Linked DNA regions of Homo sapiens: region 2 is linked to region 1. The links come from fine-mapping of genetic effects on gene expression. A gene starts in region 1. The other region holds a variant in brackets. All regions are shown on one strand. Distances are between the middles of the regions.

Region 1 (8,807 bases):
CTTTCGAATGATCCGGCTGGCTGCCTGGATGGCCTGTTCAAACCTAGGACAGAGAAGGGTCCCATGCAACCCATGCTCCCTCCGCACCCATCACCCACCCCAGCACCAGGCCCCCAGTCCAGGGGGGAGTAAGGGCAAAGACAAGGGCCAAGGCTCAAGGCAGTGGAAGGGGTGGGGTGGGAAGAACGCCCACCATCAGGGGGCCCAGGTATTGGGGAGGGGGAAGATAAGAGGCAGCTTGGAATTTTAAAGGCTGCCCTGAATGAAAGAAAGCCCAGAGAATGGCAGTGATAGAGACAGCTGGGGCAGGTCAGGGTCAGGGAGGCGTCACCAAGGCAACAGTCTCGCCAGCCTGCACCAGGCCTTCCACCTGTATGCAAATCACCTCAGCGGGGCCATATGGCTGCCAGGAAAGGCATCCATCCATCCTATGATAGGCCAGGGGCACCCAGCAATGTGGGTGTCTCCAGGGCCTGGACAACAGCAAGGCTAGGCTTCCTCTCCCCTGTGAGGAGCTGGCCTGGCTCCCGGTCCTCTGAGGACTGGGGCCTGCTTTAGGGCTCCCCCAGTCAGCTCCAGTCTGATACAGTAGACCCCCAGTGACAAACGTGCAGGCTCACATCCTCTCCTCCCTCCTATGGAATTTTCCAGGACCAGCCTCTGTCCCACCCCCTCCTCCTGCCTTAGAAGAGGCCAGCAGGCAAGGAATTCCAACACATGTTCCCTCTGAGGCCCCGCCCCCTCAGCCGTGTTACAGGAGACCACCTGCCACGCGGAGCTTTTGTGCATCTACGCGCGCGCGCGCACACACACACACACACACACACACACACACACACACACACAGCTTCTGAGAAACTCTGTATAACTGTCAGAGCAGGTGCAGGGCAGGGAACCACTCAGGGATAAAGTATGAGGGGGATGCCCCCCCGGGGGGCTGCTGTGCCCAGCCAACCTGGCATCAGGGATGACCAATTTCATTGGCTTGCACATGGGCCTTGGGGGTAGGGCAAGATTGCTCTGTGCTGCCACCAAAACCAACCTGCAGTCCCCCAACCCCACCCAATCCTCTCCCCATTTCCTGTTTGTGAACCAATCTGCAGCCCAACCCAGTCTGATCAAAGGCAATGGGAGGTAAGACAAGTCACTATCCTAAACCCAAAGCCACAGTCCCCAGCACAGGCCAGAGATGCCCAGCTGTCCCTACTAATGGCTGGCAGCTGCCCCGCTGCTTGGGCTTTAACAACTGGATGGGAACAGCTGTGCTCTGGAAGACACCACCCATGCCCACAGCCAAGGGGATGGTCTGTCCAGGCCAGAGCCCACCAACTCTCTCTCCATTCCCTTGCAGAAAGGGCCTAGACCAGGGCTGGCCAGAGGGTAAAGTGTCATCGAAGTCAGAGGTTGCTGATCGGCCAAGAGCCAAATCAATCTGCAGGCAACTGTGTTTTGTTTGGCCTAGAGTGAGTTAAAGTTTTGAATTAGTTGGATCATATTTTTAAATTGTAATATTTCACAGAAAAAAATGGGTATAGGCAAGAAAGAAAAACGGGACATACGCTGGGCTTGTATTCCTGCAAGACATGGGCTGTAGTCTAGTATCTGCTCTCCCAGTGGCCACTGTCCCCACTATCCCTGGCCCTGAGCCCACACTCGGTTGGCTCCCATGAGAGCAGATCCTTCTCTGAGACAGGGAGCAGAATGCCAAGGCCTGAGAAAGTCAGTGAGCCCCCCGGCCATGGGGATCCTGAAGCCACCCCATGGTCTGTCTGCTTTCCCAGGCCTCCCGGGTGAATTTATGGTAGAACTAGGATTCTTAAAGACAGGTGCTGAATGCTTGGAAGTACACATTCCCTTCTCTACTCACGTCTGCTCCGCCATGTGGGGGTCCATAGGGCTGGGGGAATCCATGCAGAGACCTGAGGGGACAGAGCACCTTGGTTTGAAAGTAGTGGCACTTTCTGTATTCTTTCCCCCACCATGTCCCAATATGAAAAAAAAAAAAAAAAAAAAAACAGTTTCTAGTTTGGACTTTGACACATTAGAAAATGAAACAAAAACCCAACCATGGACCCTGAGAGCTGACACATCGTCCCCCAGACGGTACAGGGCTCCACTCCCTGTTTACTATGGAAATTCCTTCATATGCGTCTTTAAACCACAATGCTCACTAAGCATTTTTCTTGAACTGGTTTAAAATAATTTGTTCTAGAAGAGACAACAGATTTTTAAAGAAGAGGTTATAGGCTAAGAATGTTTTAAAGACCAACTCTCAGCCCTGGGTGCTTCCCAGGTAGGGTTGTGGTTTAGGAACTCTGGAGCGTGGTTTTACATAGGTAAGATCTCATCTCCGTAGAGGGCCCCACCCTCTCATCCACTCAGCCAGTCCGCGTTGGGTGTGGTGAGCCCCACAAGAGGTGTGTCTTCCTCCCATTTCTGTGGAGGGTGGGGGAGAGGCTCCTGGGCCCACCAGGTTGTGGGGAGGATGTTAGTTTGATCGGCAGGGAAATTGGGAGGCCCAGGCAGCCCCCACAAACTCTCCTGACACAGGCAGATCTCCCCAGGCTCCCCTGGGCCTCACCTGCATCAGAAGATTCGGAGGATTCAGACGACAGGGAGGATTCGGATGCCCGTCGAGACAGGGATAGGTGCGTCAGGCGGCTGCGGCTGCGGAAGAGCAGGGTCCCTACCTGACTCTTTGGGGTTTCGCTGGGAAGGGAACAGGGACCCGGGAAAGGAGAAAGGTAAACGTGGGGCTCAAGGCCTGGCTAGCCCACGTTCCCACTCCCTTGCTGAGAAAAGAACTGAGCGAAACACTACACCGGGAAAGCAATGGCCCTGAGGGCCCCCTCTTCTCAGGTCAAGGAAGGTTCATTCTACAGAGGCCCTAAAGCGTCTTCTCTTCGTTGACTGGTTTAGGAAAGGTCCTCTCAGGAGCAGGGCAAGGTGAGCCCAGGGTGTGAGCAAGGCTGCCTGGCTGGAGGCCAGCCTAAGGGTTGGTGGTCTAGCAGAGCCGCCCCAGAGAGCCTTCCCCTAAACTGTCAGACCCCCACCTTTCCAGGACCCTTCCTGAAGGATGGACCAAGACCAGGTTCTCCTACTGGAACAACCCAGCTCTCCCCTTGCAGACTTAGGGAGCAGGATCAGTGTTTAATTAATTGTCTTAATTCTGGGGGCAGAACTGGGGTGGAGGGAGCAGGGGCATGGATGTGTGAGTGCTCCACGGCTCTGCCACCCTTAAGTTCCCTCTCCAGGCTTGAGATTCCCATCCTGGGGCAAAATGGTGGCTATCCGGGCAGAGATTACGGAGGCAGCGTGGTGGAGGCACAATGAGGGAGGAGGGAGTGAGGGGAAAGAAGATTTGGAGAGGCTTGTGCAGACTGAGAGCAGGTCACCTGGAGGTGTGGGGGGCACAGCCCAGGTCTCACTTCCCATGTCCTGGGCCCCTAGGAGGGAACAAGGGCGTACCTCTCCACTGCTCAGGATGCCTCCCCGGACTCCACCTCCTGGATTCGACTACCATGCCCAGTTCTCCAGGAGGCCCAGGACTCCAGACCTAGCCTCTCACCCCCATATGCAGCCTCCTTGGGGTGTCCTACCTGCCGAGCCCGGCGAGGTCGTGCATGGTCTGGGTGAGGGTGGTGACCGGCGAGGAAGCGGCCGCCCGCACCGGGGACCCCAGGAGGCCATGAGATCCCAGCAGGAGGCCCGGGAGGTGGCCCGGACGCTGGGCGCCACCGCACACGCCTGCTGGACTGAGAGCCGAGCCTGGCGCGGGCTCCGGCTGGGGCACCTCCATCGCGGCGGGGCCGGCAGAAGGCTGGCTGGAGGGCCGGGCGCAGGGCAGCCAACAAACGCCGGCACAGCTGGCTGGGCCGAGGGAGGCAGCGGGCGAGGGGTGGGGGGGGGGGGAAGGAGGGAGGGAGGAAGAGCCACAGGGCCAGGCGCGAGGGAGGAGAGGGATGCGGGGAGGGCGGGGGGCGAGGGACGCCGGGCTCAGGCACCAGCCAGGGAAGCCTCTAGTTGCAGCTGCCACTTCCACCTCCTTATATATTCGAAAAATAACAGCAGCCGCGCCGCCGGACGCCACCAATGGGGTAGCGGGTTAGATGAGGGCGGGACTGAGGGCGGGGCCCGCAGGGCAAGAGGCGCGGAGGCTGGATTTCCAGGCTTTGGGTGGGCCGGAGGAATTAAGATTTATCCCACACCCTCGCACATCCCCCTGGCGCGAGGATCCCGGCCTCCCAAAATCCGCCTCTCGCGACATGGTTTGGAGCTCCACACTCCCAAAGGCAGCAGCAACGCCCTAGGGTGGCCTCCGCAGGACCCCCCGCGGCATGTCGTCACCTGGGATCACCGCTAGGGATGGGGAGAGGCTCCAACTGGCTCCCGGAAGTTTGCTAAACCCAGCTGGGCTGTACGGTCTGCGTTAGACACCCCATTTTACAGACCTGGACGCTGAGGCGTGAAGTTCATTAACTCAATCAAGGTCACGCGGTTGGGCAGGCGGTGGGCCAGGATTCGCTCGCTCCAGGCGCCTCTGACCGCGCAGCCTCCCCGCCTCCGCGACTGGCTGCGCTGAGCAGCAGCAAAACGTCATTCGCAGGAGAAGCGCCCAGCGTAGGAGGTGGGAGGGCAGTGGGGCCCCCAAGCGGAACTGATGGGCTCTTTCGCGGGACCCCAGGTTAGATGTTACCCCAACCGGCCCAATTTTCGCGGCAGCCCCAGGAGAGGCTCTAAACGGTGGAACTAGGAATGGATTTCCGCGGCTGGGGGTCGAGGAGGGTGTCAGCAACCAGAGAGGCGAATTAAGTATCACGCCCATTGATGATTTGGCTAACTTGGTGCCAATGGCACCATATTATTTAATTGGTGTTTCTTTGATGACCAGACCAGGGAGGCTGAATTTGTCATTCGTTTTAAGCGGAGCAGCTTCCAATTATCTTTCTTTTTGTTTTGTTTTGTTTTTTTTGGGATGGAGTCTCCCTCTGTCAACCCGGCTGGAGTGCAGTGGCCATCTCTGCTCACTACAACCTCCGCCACCCGGGTTCCAGCGATTCTTCTGCCTCAGCCTCCCGAGTAGCTGAGACTACAGGAGCGCGCCACCACGCCCAGCTAATGTTTGTATTTTTAGTAGAGACGGGGGTTTCACCATATTGGCCAGGCTGGTCTCGAACTCCTGACCTCGTGATCCACCCACCTAGGCCTCCCAAAGTGCTGGGATTACACGCACGAGCCACTGTGCCCGGCCCATCTTCCAATTATCTAAATGCCTTCCAGCCCCGCTCGTTTTCCAGGCCTCCTGGAACAAGAGGCCTGAAGGCTGCACCCAAAAGCCGGTGGGTAGTGAGCAGCTTTCGCATCCTGTCTCCCCAGGTTAGAAGTGGCCTCTGGCTGGGCGGGTGGTGGTGCGGGGGGCGGGCTGCAGCTCAGCAAGGCAGGAGTACCCCTTCTCGTGCAGTCCCAGCCACCCAGACCCAAGGTGCATTGGATGGGGGTGGCAAAAGGGAGGGCCTGGTGATGGGGGGCTGGGTGGGCCAATGCATCTGAAGGGTAGGGGAAGACCCCAGCCCCACCTGAGAGGGGTGGCCAAGGTGGGAACGTGACCTTTCCTTTTCTCCAAATTTTGCCCAGCTCCTGTGCTGTGCAGAGGGCTCTGCAAGACTGAATTTCCGGTTCATCCTCCCTGGGTCAGGGGTTATGCCCTGGACCTCCAGCCACTACTTCCAGTGAGGATGTGACTGCCCTTAGTGCCAGGAGGGAAGGGGGAAGTGTCCTTGTAAAGCCACCCAGCCCAAAAACCAGAAAAAAAAAACTGCCCCGAGATTTGCATTTTCAAAATAAACACAACAGGTATCCCCCCCACCCCCCACCCAGCCAATATACATCTGCACAGGGTGTATGTGGCAGGGCAGGCATTATACTATTGAATCCCTTGAAATCCCACAGTCAAAAAACACATGAAAAAATGCTCATCATCACTGGCCATCAGAGAAATGCAAATCAAAACCACAATGAGATACCATCTCACACCAGTTAGAATGGCAATCATTAAAAAGTCAGGAAACAACAGGTGCTGGAGAGGATGTGGAGAAATAGGAACACTTTTACACCGCTGGTGGGACTGTAAACTAGTTCAACCCTTGTGGAAGTCAGTGTGGCGATTCCTCAGGGATCTAGAACTAGAAATACCATTTGACCCAGCCATCCCATTACTGGGTATATACCCAAAGGATTATAAATCATGCTGCTATAAAGACACATGCACATGTATGTTTATTGCGGCACTATTCACAATAGCAAAGACTTGGAACCAACCCAAATGTCCAACAATGATAGACTGGATTAAGAAAATGTGGCACATATACACCATGGAATACTATGCAGCCATAAAAAATGATGAGTTCATGTCCTTTGTAGGGACATGGATGAAATTGGAAATAATCATTCTCAGTAAACTATCGCAAGAACAAAAAACCAAACACCGCATATTCTACTCATAGGTGGGAATTGAACAATGAGAACACATGGACACAGGAAGGGGAACATCACACTCTGGGGACTGTTGTGGGGTGGGGGGAGGGGGGAGGGATAGCATTAGGAGATATACCTAATGCTAAATGACGAGTTAATGGGTGTAGCACACCAGCATGGCACATGTATACATATGTAACTAACCTGCACATTGTGCACATGTACCCTAAAACTTAAAGTATAATAATAATAAAATAAAAAAATAAAATAAAATAAAATAAAATTCTCTAAAACCAAAAAAAAAAAAACAGAAATCCCACAGTCAGGTCACCTCTGGGCCAGTGAGGGGGGAGGTGGGCAAGACCACAGAGGGGTTCTGGGTTTTTTTGTTTGTTTGTTTGAGATGGAGTCTCGCCCTGTCGCCCAGGCTGGAGTGCAGTGGCATGATCTCGGCTCACTGCAACCTCTGCCTCCTGGGTTCAAGCGATTTTCCTGCCTCAGCCTCTCGAGTACCTGGGATTACAGGTGCCCGCCACCATTCCTGGCCAATTTTGTATTTTCAGTAGAGACAGGGTTTTGCCATATTGGCCAGGCTGGTCTCGAACTCCTGACCTCAGGTGATCCACCCACCTCGGCCTCCCAAAGTGCTAGGATTACAGGCGTGAGCCACTGCGCCTGGCCCACATACATAATTTAAAATATTCTAGTAGCCACATTTAAAACAGTAAAAAAGAAACATGAAATTACTGTAATATTTTATTCAATGTAATGTATTCAAAATATTATTCGACATGTTATCAATATAAATTAATGAGATATTTTACATTTTTGGATATCAAGTCTTCAAACTAGTATGCATTTTACACCCCCAGCACATCTCAATTTGTACTTGCAACATTTAAAGGGCTCAATAGTGCTGGCACTGTGGCTCACACCTATAATCCCAGCAACTCCAGAGCCTGCTGCAGGACAATTGCCTGAGGCTAGTAATTCAAGACCAGCCTGGGCAATATGGTGAAACCTTGTCTCTACAAAACATTTTTTAAAAACTTAGCCCGGTGTGGTGGCCCCTGCCTATAATCCAAGTGACTCGCTGGGCACGGTGGCTCACACCTGTAATCCCAGCACTTTGGGAGGCCGAGGCAGGTGGATCACAAGGTCAGGAGTTTGAGACCAGCCTGGCCGACATGGTGAAAACCTGTCTCTACTAAAAATACATACATTAGTTTGGCCTGGTGGCACCGACCTGAAATCCCAGCTACTCGGGAGGCTGAGGCAGGAGAATCGCTTGAACCTGGGAGGCGGAGGTTGCAGTGAGCCTAGATCATGCCATTGCACTCCAGCCTGGGCGAAAAGAGCAAGACTCCGTCTCAAAAACAGACAAACAAACAAAAAATCCAAGTGACTCTGGAGGCTGAGGTAGGAGGATAGCTTGAGCCCAGGAGTTTGAGTCTGCAGTGAGCCATAATTCCACCACTGCACTCCAGCCTGGGCAACAGAGTGAGACTTTGATTCTAAACATAAAATAAATAAATTAATAGTTCAATGGCCACTTAGGGTTAGTGGCTGCAGGTCTATATCTTTACAAGCGTAAATCCGTCTGTATTTTAAAGAATATACAAACAGCATATGAACATTGTTCTAGGCTGGCATGCTGGCTCACACCTGTAATCCCAGTACTTTGGGAGGCCAAGGTAGGTGGATCACCTGAAGTCAGGAGTTCAAGATCAGCCTGGGCAACATGGTGAAACCCTGTCTCTACTAAAAATACAAAAATTAGCCAGGCATGGTGGCATGTGCCTGTAATCCCAGCTACTTGGGAGTCTGAGGCAGGAGAATCACCTGAATCCAGGAGGCGGAGGTTGCAGTGAGCCAAGATCGTGCCACTGCACTCCAGCCTGGGTGACAAAGTGAGATTCTGTCTCAAAAATAAATAAATAAATAAAAATAAAAACCACTGTTCTATACCTTTCTTCTTCTTACTTGGAGATGGATCCATATTAGTACCATAACAATATATATTTACTCAAGCCCCTAATGCTGAACATTTAGGATATTAGCTTTTACAACGATGCAGTAAGTATGCCCTTATGTGTCTGTGTGCTATCTACAAGATGAATTCCTAGGGAGGAACTGATGGGAGGCACAGCATTTAGTTTGTTTTCTGTTTTTGTTTTGAGTCCAAGTCTCTCCGTCACCCAGGCTGGAGGGCAGTGTTAAATCTCGGCTCACTGCAACATCTGTCTCCTGAGTTCAAGCAATCCTCCCACCTCAGCCTCCCAAGTAGCTGTGACTACAGGCGCATCCCACTATGCTTGGCACATTTTTGTATT
Region 2 (8,807 bases), 36 kb before region 1:
CTGAGGTCGGGAGTCTGAGACCAGCCTGACCAACGTGGAGAAACCCCATCTCTACTAAAAATACAAAATTAAACGGGCATGGTGGCGCATGCCTGTAATCTCAGCTACTCGGGAGGCTGAGGCAGGAGAATTGCTTGAACCTGGGAGGTGGAGGTTGCGGTGAGCCGAGATCGAGCCATTGCACACTTCGGCCTGGGCAACAAGAGCGAAACTCCGTCAAAAAAAAAAAAAAAAAAAGAATAAACACACTATGTTTGCACTATGAGATACATTCTAATAATGTTACTGAAATGTAAAGATGAATCTTTGGGGCACTCAGGCAGAAAGATCAAGTATAAAGGCTCTAAAAAGATTTTTTTTTTTTTAGACAGAGTTTCGCTCTTGTTACCCAGGCTGGAGTGCAATGGCGCAATCTCGGCTCACTGCAACTTCCATCTCCTGGGTTCAAGTGATTCTCCTGCCTCAGCCTCCCAAATAGCTGAGATTACAGGTATGTGCCACCACGCCCAGCTAATTTTTCGTATTTTTAGCAGAAACAGGGTTTCACCATGTTAGCCAGGCTGGTCTCAAACTCCTGACCTCAGGTGATCCACCCTCTTTGGCCTCCCAAAGTGCCGGGATTACAGGCATGAGCCACCGTGCCCAGCCAAAAATAATTTTTTAACATACAAGAACTCAAAAATATTGTTCTCACGAAGTCATGTAAAAATAGGGAATTAAGAAGGAAAAAAAGTGAAACTACAGATTTCTAGAAAATGTCAACAGTGAAAACACCACATCAGAACATATGGGATACAACTAAAGCTGTATCATAGGAAAATTCATAACTTAAAGACTAATGTCATTTTCTAAGACTGCAAACAAATGACTTAAGCACCCCTAAAGAGGTATGGATATACTAAATGAAAACAGAAGGAAACAGTTCATGAAAATAAAAGCCTAAAATAATGAGGTAATGCTGGGTTTTATTTCTTTTTTGTTTCTGTTTTTGGAGACATAGTTTCACTCTTGTTGCCCAGGCTGAGTGCAATGGCGCGATCTAAGCTCACCACAACCTCTGCCTCCCGGGTTCAAGTGATTCTCCTGCCTCAGCCTCCCAAGTAGCTGGGATTACAGGCATGCACCACCACATCCAGCTAATTTTGTATTTTTAGTAGAGACAGGGTTTCTCCATGTTGGTCAGGCTGGTCTCAAACTCCCGACCTCAGGTGATCTGCCCACTTCGGCCTCCCAAAGTGCTGGGATTACAGGCGTGAGCCACCACACCCAGCTGGTTTTTATTTCTTAAATGAAATGACAGGTACTTGGATGCTCATTATATAATTCTAAGCACCTTTTTGTAAATGTGAAATATGGTAGTTCACAATAACTTTTAGGTTTGCTAAATTAACTATAATCTAGCCACATGATGGATAAGAACTTAAAAGAATACAGATGCTGTCTCTGTAGTGCTATGACAAAAATATCCAGGATACACTGGTGAGTGAAAAAAGCAAGTGATGGCCAGGTGTGTGGTGGCTCACGCTTGTAATCCCAGCACTTTGGGAGGCTGAGGTGGGTGGATCACTTGAGGTCAGGAGTCCGAGACCAGCCTGGCTAACATGGTGAAACCCCGTCTCTACTAAAAATACAAAAATTAGCCAGGCATGGTGGTGTGCACCTGTAATCCCAGCTACTCAGGAGGCTGAGGCAGTAGAATCGCTTGAACCCGGGACGTGGAGATTGCAGTGAGCCGAGACTGCGCCTAAGTAGCTGGGATTACAGGCGTGTACCACCATTCCTGGCTTATTTTTGTATTTTTAGTAGAGACGTGGTTTCTGCCATGTTGGCCAGCCTTGTCTTGGACTCCTGACAGAGGGAGGGAAGGAGGGACGGAGGGAAGGAAGGAAGGAACGAAGGAAAGAAGGAAGGAAGGAACGAAGGAAGGAAGGAAGGAAGGAAGGAAGGAAGGAAGGAAGCAAGGAAACTACAGACCAGTATCTCTTGTGAACATAGATGCAAAACTCCTCAACAAAATAGTAGCAAATCAAATCCAGTAATGTATAAAAATAATTACTCAAAATGACCAAGCGGGATTTATTCCAGGTATGTGAGGCTAGTTCAACATTTGAAAATCAATTAAGATAATCAATTACATTGACAGGCTAACGATGTAAAATTGCATTATCATACCAATAAAAGCAGAAAAAGCATGTGGCAAAGTCCAACCACCATTTACAATAAAAACTCTCAACAAACTAGGAAATAAGAGAACTTCACAAGTTGATAAAGAACATTTACAAAAATCATACTTAATGGTGAGAAACTGGAAGCTTTCCCACTAAGGTCAGGAACAAGGCAATAATGTCCTAACAACTCATTTTCAATGTTGTACCAAAAGTCCTAGCTAATGTAGAAAATCTGAAAGAATCAACAAAAACAAACCAACAAAAACTCTTGGAACGAATAAGCATTACAGCAAGATTGCAAGACACAACATTAATATACAAAAGTCAATTGCTAAGCTGGACGAAGTGGCTCATGCCTGTAATTCCTGCACTTTGAGAGGTCAAGGCAGGCGGATCTATTGAGTCCAGGAGTTTGAGATTAGCCTTGGCAACCTCCCTGTAGGAAGACCTTATCTCTATTAAAAAAAGAAAAACTCAGCCGGGTGTGGTGATTCACACCTGTAATCCCAGCATTTTGGGAGGCTGAGGTGGGTGGATCACTGGGTCAAGAGATTGAGACCATCCTGGCCAACATGGTGAAACCCCGTGTCTATTAAAAATACAAAAATTAGCTGGGCATGGTGGTGCGCACCTGTAGTACCAGCTACTCGGGAGGCTGAGGCAGGAGAATCGCTTGAACCCGGGAGGTGGAGGTTGCAGTGAGCTGAGATGGTGGCACTGCACTCCAGCCTGGGCAACAGAGCGAGACTCCGTCTCAAAAAAAAGGAAAAAAATGGTGCCCAGGCACGATGGCTCACGCCTGTAATCCCAGCACTTTGGGAGGCCAAGGTGGGTGGATCACTTGAGATCAGGATTTTGAGACCAGACTGGCCAACATAGTGAAACCTCGTCTCTACTAAAAACACAAAAATTTAGCTGGGCATAGTGGTGCACATCTGTAATCTCAGCTACTTGGGAGGCTGAGGTGGGGGGATCACTTGAGCCCAGAAGGCACAGGCTGCAGTGAGCCAAGACTGCGCCACTGCACTCCAGCTTGGGCAACAGAGTGAGACCCTGTCTCAAAAAAGAAAAAAAAGTCAATTGCTTTCACTTATACAAGCAATCAGCAAGTGCAATGTTTTTTTTTTGTTTTTTTTTGTTTTTTTTTTTTTTGAGACAGAGTTTCACTCTGTTGCCCAGGCTGGAGTACAGTGGCGCGATCTCGGCTCACCGCAAGCTCCGCCTCCCGGGTTCATGCCATTCTCCTGCCTCAGCCTCCCGAGTAGCTGGGACTACAGGCGCTCACCACCACACCCAGCTAATTTTTTTGTATTTTTAGTAGACACGGGGTTTCACTGTGTTAACCAGGATGGTCTCGATCTCCTCACCTTGTGATCCGCCCGCCTCAGCCTCTCAAAGTGCTGGGATTACAGGAGTAAGCCACTACGCCCAGCTTTTTTTTTTTTTTTTTTTTGAGACAGTTTCACTCTGTCACCCAGGCTGAAGTGCAGTGGCATGATCTCAGCTCACTGGACCTCCACCTCCCAGGTTCAAATGATTCTCCTGCCTCAGCCTCCCAAGTAGCTGGGATTATAGGCATGTACCACCACTCCTGGCTAATTTTTGTATTTTTAGTAGAGACACGGTTTCTGCCATGTTGGCCAGGCTGGTCTCGGATTCCTGACCTCAGATGATCTACCCACCTTGGCCTCCCAAAGTGCTGGGATTATAGGCATGAGCCACTGTGCCCAGCCAAGTGCAATCTGATATTAAAACCACATTACCCACTTTGGAAGGCCAAGGTGGGAGGATTGCTTGAGCTCAGGAGTTGAAGGCCAGCTTGGACAACATAGCAAGACCCTGTCTCTACTAAATATTTAAAATTTAGCTGGGTGTGGTGGTGCATGCCTGTGGTGGGAAGATCACTTAGCCAGGGAGGTCCAGGCTGCAGTGAGCTGTGATCACACTACTGTACTGTAGCCTGGGTGACAGAGTAAAGACCTTGTCTCCAAAAAAAAAAAAAAAAAAAAATATATATATATATACACACACACACACACACACCACACACACACATATATATATAGATATATATATATGAAGAAAAAAGTTAAAGATTGACACTGCCTGACTTCAAGACTTACTATAAAGTTACAGTAATCAAGATAGTGGGCCAGGTGCAGTGGCTCACGCCTGTAATCCCAGCACTTTGGGAGGCCGAGGCGGGCAGATCACAAGGTCAGGAGATCAAGACCATCCTGGCTAATACGGTGAAACCCCGTCTCTGCTAAAAATACAAAAACAAAATTAGCCAGGTGTGGTGGCGGGCGCCTGTAGTCCCAGCTACTCAGGAGCCTGAGGCGGGAGAATGGCGTAAAGCTGGGAGGCGGAGCTTGCAGTGAGCCGAGATTGCGCCACTGCACTCCAGCCTGGGCGACAGAGTGAGACTCTCTCTCAGAAAAAAAAAAAAAAAAAAAAAAAAAACCTTGAAAAAAGATAGTGTGGTGGCCAGGCACAGTGGCTCATGCCTATAATCCCAGCATTTTGTGAGGCTGAGGTGGGCAGATTACCAGAGGTCAGGAGTTTGAGACCAGCCTGGCCAACACGGTGAAATCCCATCTCTAACAAAAATAGAAAAATTAGCCAGGCATGGTGGTGCATGCCTATAGTCCCAGCTACTAGGGAGGCTAAGGCGGGAGGGTGGCTTGAACCTGGAAGGTGGAGGTTGCAGTGAGCCAAGATTGCACCATTACACTCCAGGCTGGGTAAGAGTGAGACTCCATCTCAAAAAAAAAAAAAAAAAAAAATAGTGTAGTATTGGCAAAAGAATAGACAAACAGATTAATGGAACAGAATAAAGAACCCAGGAGAGACCCACATTAATACAGTCAACTGGTCTCTGACAAAGGAGTAAAAGCAATACA[A/G]TGGAACAAAGATAGAAAGACTCTTTTCAAGAGATTATGTTGGAACAACTGAACATCCACATGCAAAAACATGAATCTACACATAGACCTTACACCCTTCACAAAAATGAACTCAAAATGGATCATAGACCTAAATGTAAAATGCAAAACTGTAAAACTTCTAGTAGATAACATAGGAGAAAATCTAGATGATATTGGATTGGTGATGACTTTTTAAATACAACAGTAAAGGCAGGATCCATTTAAAAAATTGACAAAGAGCTGGGCATGGTGGCTCACGCCTGTAATCCCAGCACTTTGGGAGGCCGAGGCGGGTGGATCACCTGAGGTCGGGAGTTCGAGACCAGCCTAACCAACATGGAGAAACCCTGTCTCTACGAAAAATACAAAATTAGCCAAGGGTGGTGGCACATGCCTGTAATCCCAGCTACTCAGGAGGCTGAGGCAGGGGAATTGCTTGAACCCGGGAGGCGAGGTTGTGGCGAGCCGAGATTGCACCATTGCACTCCAACCTGGGCAACAAGAGAGAAACTCCGTCTCAAAAAAAAAAAAAAAAAAAATTGACAAACTTCATTAATTTTTTTTTTTTTTTTTTGGAAACAAAGTCTTGCTCTGTCACCCAGGCTGGAGTGCAGTGGCACAGTCACAGGTCAGTGCAGCCTTGACCTCCTGGGCTTAAGCAATCCTTCGACCTCAGCCTCCCAAGTAGCTGGGACCACAGGTGTGCACCACACTCAGCCAATTTTTATATTTTTTTGTAGAGATGAAGTCTCTATGTTGTACAGGCTGGTTTCGAACTCCTGGGCTCAAGCAATCCTCCTGCCTTGGCCTCCCAAAGTGCTGGGATTACAGGCCTCATGAGCCACCTCGCCCGGCCCACTTCATTAAATTATATGAAACTGGACTTCATTAAATTTAAAAAGCTCTGCTTTGTGAAAGACACTGTCAAGAGAATGAGAAGACAAGCCACAGACTGGGAGAAAATATTTGCAAAAGGTATATCTGATAAAGAGCTGTTATCCAAAATACACAAAGAACTCTTAAAACTCAACAAAAAGAAATCACCCAAACAAGTTGCCTGTTTTAAAATGGGCAAAAGACTTGAACAGACACCTCACTAAAGATTTACAGATGGCAAGTAAGCATAGGAAAGATACTCTACGTCATGTTATTAGGGAACTGCAAATTAAAACAAGATTTCACTACATACCTATTAGAATGGCCAAAAGCCAGCCGGGTGCAGAGGCTCATGCCTGTAATCCCAGCACTCTGGGAGGCTGAAGCAGGCAGATGACTTCAGGTCAGGAGTTTGAGACCAGCCTGGCCAATATGGTGAAACCCTCTCTCTTCTAAAAATACAAAAATCAGCCAGGCGCGGTGGCGTGTGCCTGTAGTCCCAGCTATTCAGGAGGCTGAGGCAGAAGAATGGTTTGAACCCGGGAGGCGGAGGTCGCAGTGAGTGGAGATTGTGCCACTGCACTCCAGCCTGGATGACAGAGCGAGACTCTGTCTCAGAAAAAAAAAAAAAAAAATCAGCCAGGCGTGGTGGCACACGCCTGTAATCCCAGCTACTCGGGAAGCTGAGGCAGGAGAATTGCTTGAACCTGGGCAGTCAAGGTTGCAGTGAGGCGAGATAGTGCCACTGCACTCCAGTCTGGATGACAAAGGACACTCCGTCTCAGGAAAAAAAAAAAAAAAAAGAATGGGCCAAAACCAAAACAGTGACGAAACCAAATGTTTCAGAGGATGTAGAGCAACAGAAACCCTCATTAACTGCCAACAGGAATGCAAAATGGTACAGCCACTTTTGAAGACAGTTTGGCAGTTTCTTACAAAATGAAACATACTCTTACCACAGAATCCAGGACTCATATTCCTTGGTATTTATGAGTATTTATACTCCCAAAGGAGTTGAAAACTTATGTTCACACAAAAACCTGTACACAAATGTTTGTAGCAGTTGTATTCATAATTGCCAAAACTTGGAAGCAACCAAGATGTCCTTCAGTAGGTGAACAGATAATGTACATCCACATAATGGAATACTATTCAGCAGTACTTCCAAAATGAGCTGTCAAGCTCATGATTCAGCCATGAAAAGACTTGAAGGAATCTTAAATGTACATTACTAAGTGAAGGAAGTCAATCTGAAAAGGCTACATATACAGTATGAATCTAACTACACAACATTCTGGAAAAGGCAAAACTATGGAAGCAGTAAAAGGATCAATGGTTGCTAGGGGTTGAGGGGAGGGAAGAATGAACAGGTGCAGCAGAGGACTGTTCGGGCAGGGAAACTCTTCTGTATGATACTATAATGGTAGATGCATGTCACTGAAAATACATCCAAACCTATAGAATGTACCACCCCAAGAGTGAACCCTAATGTAAACTATGGACTCTGGTGATAGTGACGTGTCAATGAAGGTCCATCAGTTGTAACAAATGACCACTCTGGTGCCCAGTGTTGGTGATAAGGGAGGCTGTGCATGTGTGGGGACAGGGAGTAAATGAGAACTCTCTGTACCCTCTGCTCAGTTTTACTGTGAACCTAAAATTGCACTAAACAAATAAAGTATATTTAAGAAAACGGTCACGGCCACTTGAATTGCAGTAATAAACATACAGAGACTTGGTTAACGGGTCACAGAGTATTGAATCTGACAAACACGGTTAACTGCATTACAATAAAATATAGGAATAATTGTTTAAAAGAAAAGATTGAGGCCAGGCATGGTGGCTCACACCTGTAATCTCAGCACTTTGGGAGGCCAATATGGGTGGATCACCTGAGGTAAGGAGTTCGAGACCAGCCTGGCCAACACGGTGAAACCCTGTCTCTACTAAAGATACAAAAATTAGCCAGGCATGGTGGCACATGCTTGTAATCCCAGCTACTTGGGAGGCTGAGGCGGTAGAATTGCTTGAACCCAGGAGGCAGAGGTTGCAGTGAGCCAAGATTGCACCACTGCACTCCAGCCTGAGCAACAGAGTGAGACTCCATCTCAAAAAAAAAAAAAAAAGAAAAAGAAAAGAAAACATTGAGCCCTGGGGGGATGCTGGACAGTGCGCAGCACCACAGGGCTAGAAAAAAACACCCTGCCCTAAAGGAGACAAGATGATCCAATCCCATCCCAGGGCTCACATACATGCAGTGTATGTGACCCAATCAGTGACCCACATACATGCAGGCCAGTTCCTGCCTTAAAACCTGTGACTTCATGCCAGTCAGTCGTGGTGGCTCACGCCTATAATCCCGGTACTTTGAGAGGCCACGGCGGGCGGATCACAAGGTCAGGAGATGTAGACCAACCTGGCTAACACGGTGAAACCCCGTCTCTACTAAAAATAGAAAAACTTAACCGGACGTGGTGGCAGGCACCTGTAGTCCCAGCTACTTGGGAGGCTGAGACAGAATGGCGTGAATCTGGGAGGCGGAGCTTGCAATGAGCCGAGATTGCGCCACTGCACTCCAGCCTGGGCAACAAAGAGAAACTCCGCCTAAAACAAAACAAAACAAAACCTGTGACTTCTTCCTCCTTCCAGGTAAGCTCTCTTCTCTGGGCTCTACTGCCCTCCTGTCATCATCTGTTGTCCCAGGAGTGTTTGTGGAGGTACACTGGTAACACTACTAGCTGCTCAAAGTCTCTAGTTCTCTCAAGAAGCTGAGGGATATGTGGTTTGGCCAGGGTTCCTGGGGCAGGGAGAAGAAAGGGAAGAGGCTTGGAGAGGGAGG

What was found. PIP is the estimated chance that this variant, and not a neighbour inherited with it, causes the effect.
Region 2: its variant is fine-mapped to the expression of CDC25B in whole blood (INTERVAL, PIP 0.98).

Annotation. Positions count from the first base shown.
Region 1 is chr20:3,791,524-3,800,330 of GRCh38, reverse strand. It overlaps CDC25B (cell division cycle 25B), which reads right to left and starts at 4,021. Exons shown (of 16, transcript NM_021873.4): 1 at 3,600-4,021; 2 at 2,582-2,709; 3 at 1,868-1,919; 4 at 2-43. The coding sequence starts at 3,799. RefSeq lists enhancers at 575-869, 4,224-4,383, 4,294-5,025 and silencers at 3,430-3,637, 3,704-3,883, 3,924-3,993.
Region 2 is chr20:3,827,051-3,835,857 of GRCh38, reverse strand. AP5S1 (adaptor related protein complex 5 subunit sigma 1) reads right to left here. Exons shown (of 3, transcript NM_018347.3): 3 at 7,020-8,807. Among named protein-coding and RNA genes, the nearest start is that of AP5S1, 11 kb to the right of the region's middle. RefSeq lists an enhancer at 4,382-4,882. The variant A/G (reference allele first, on the strand shown) is at 5,072.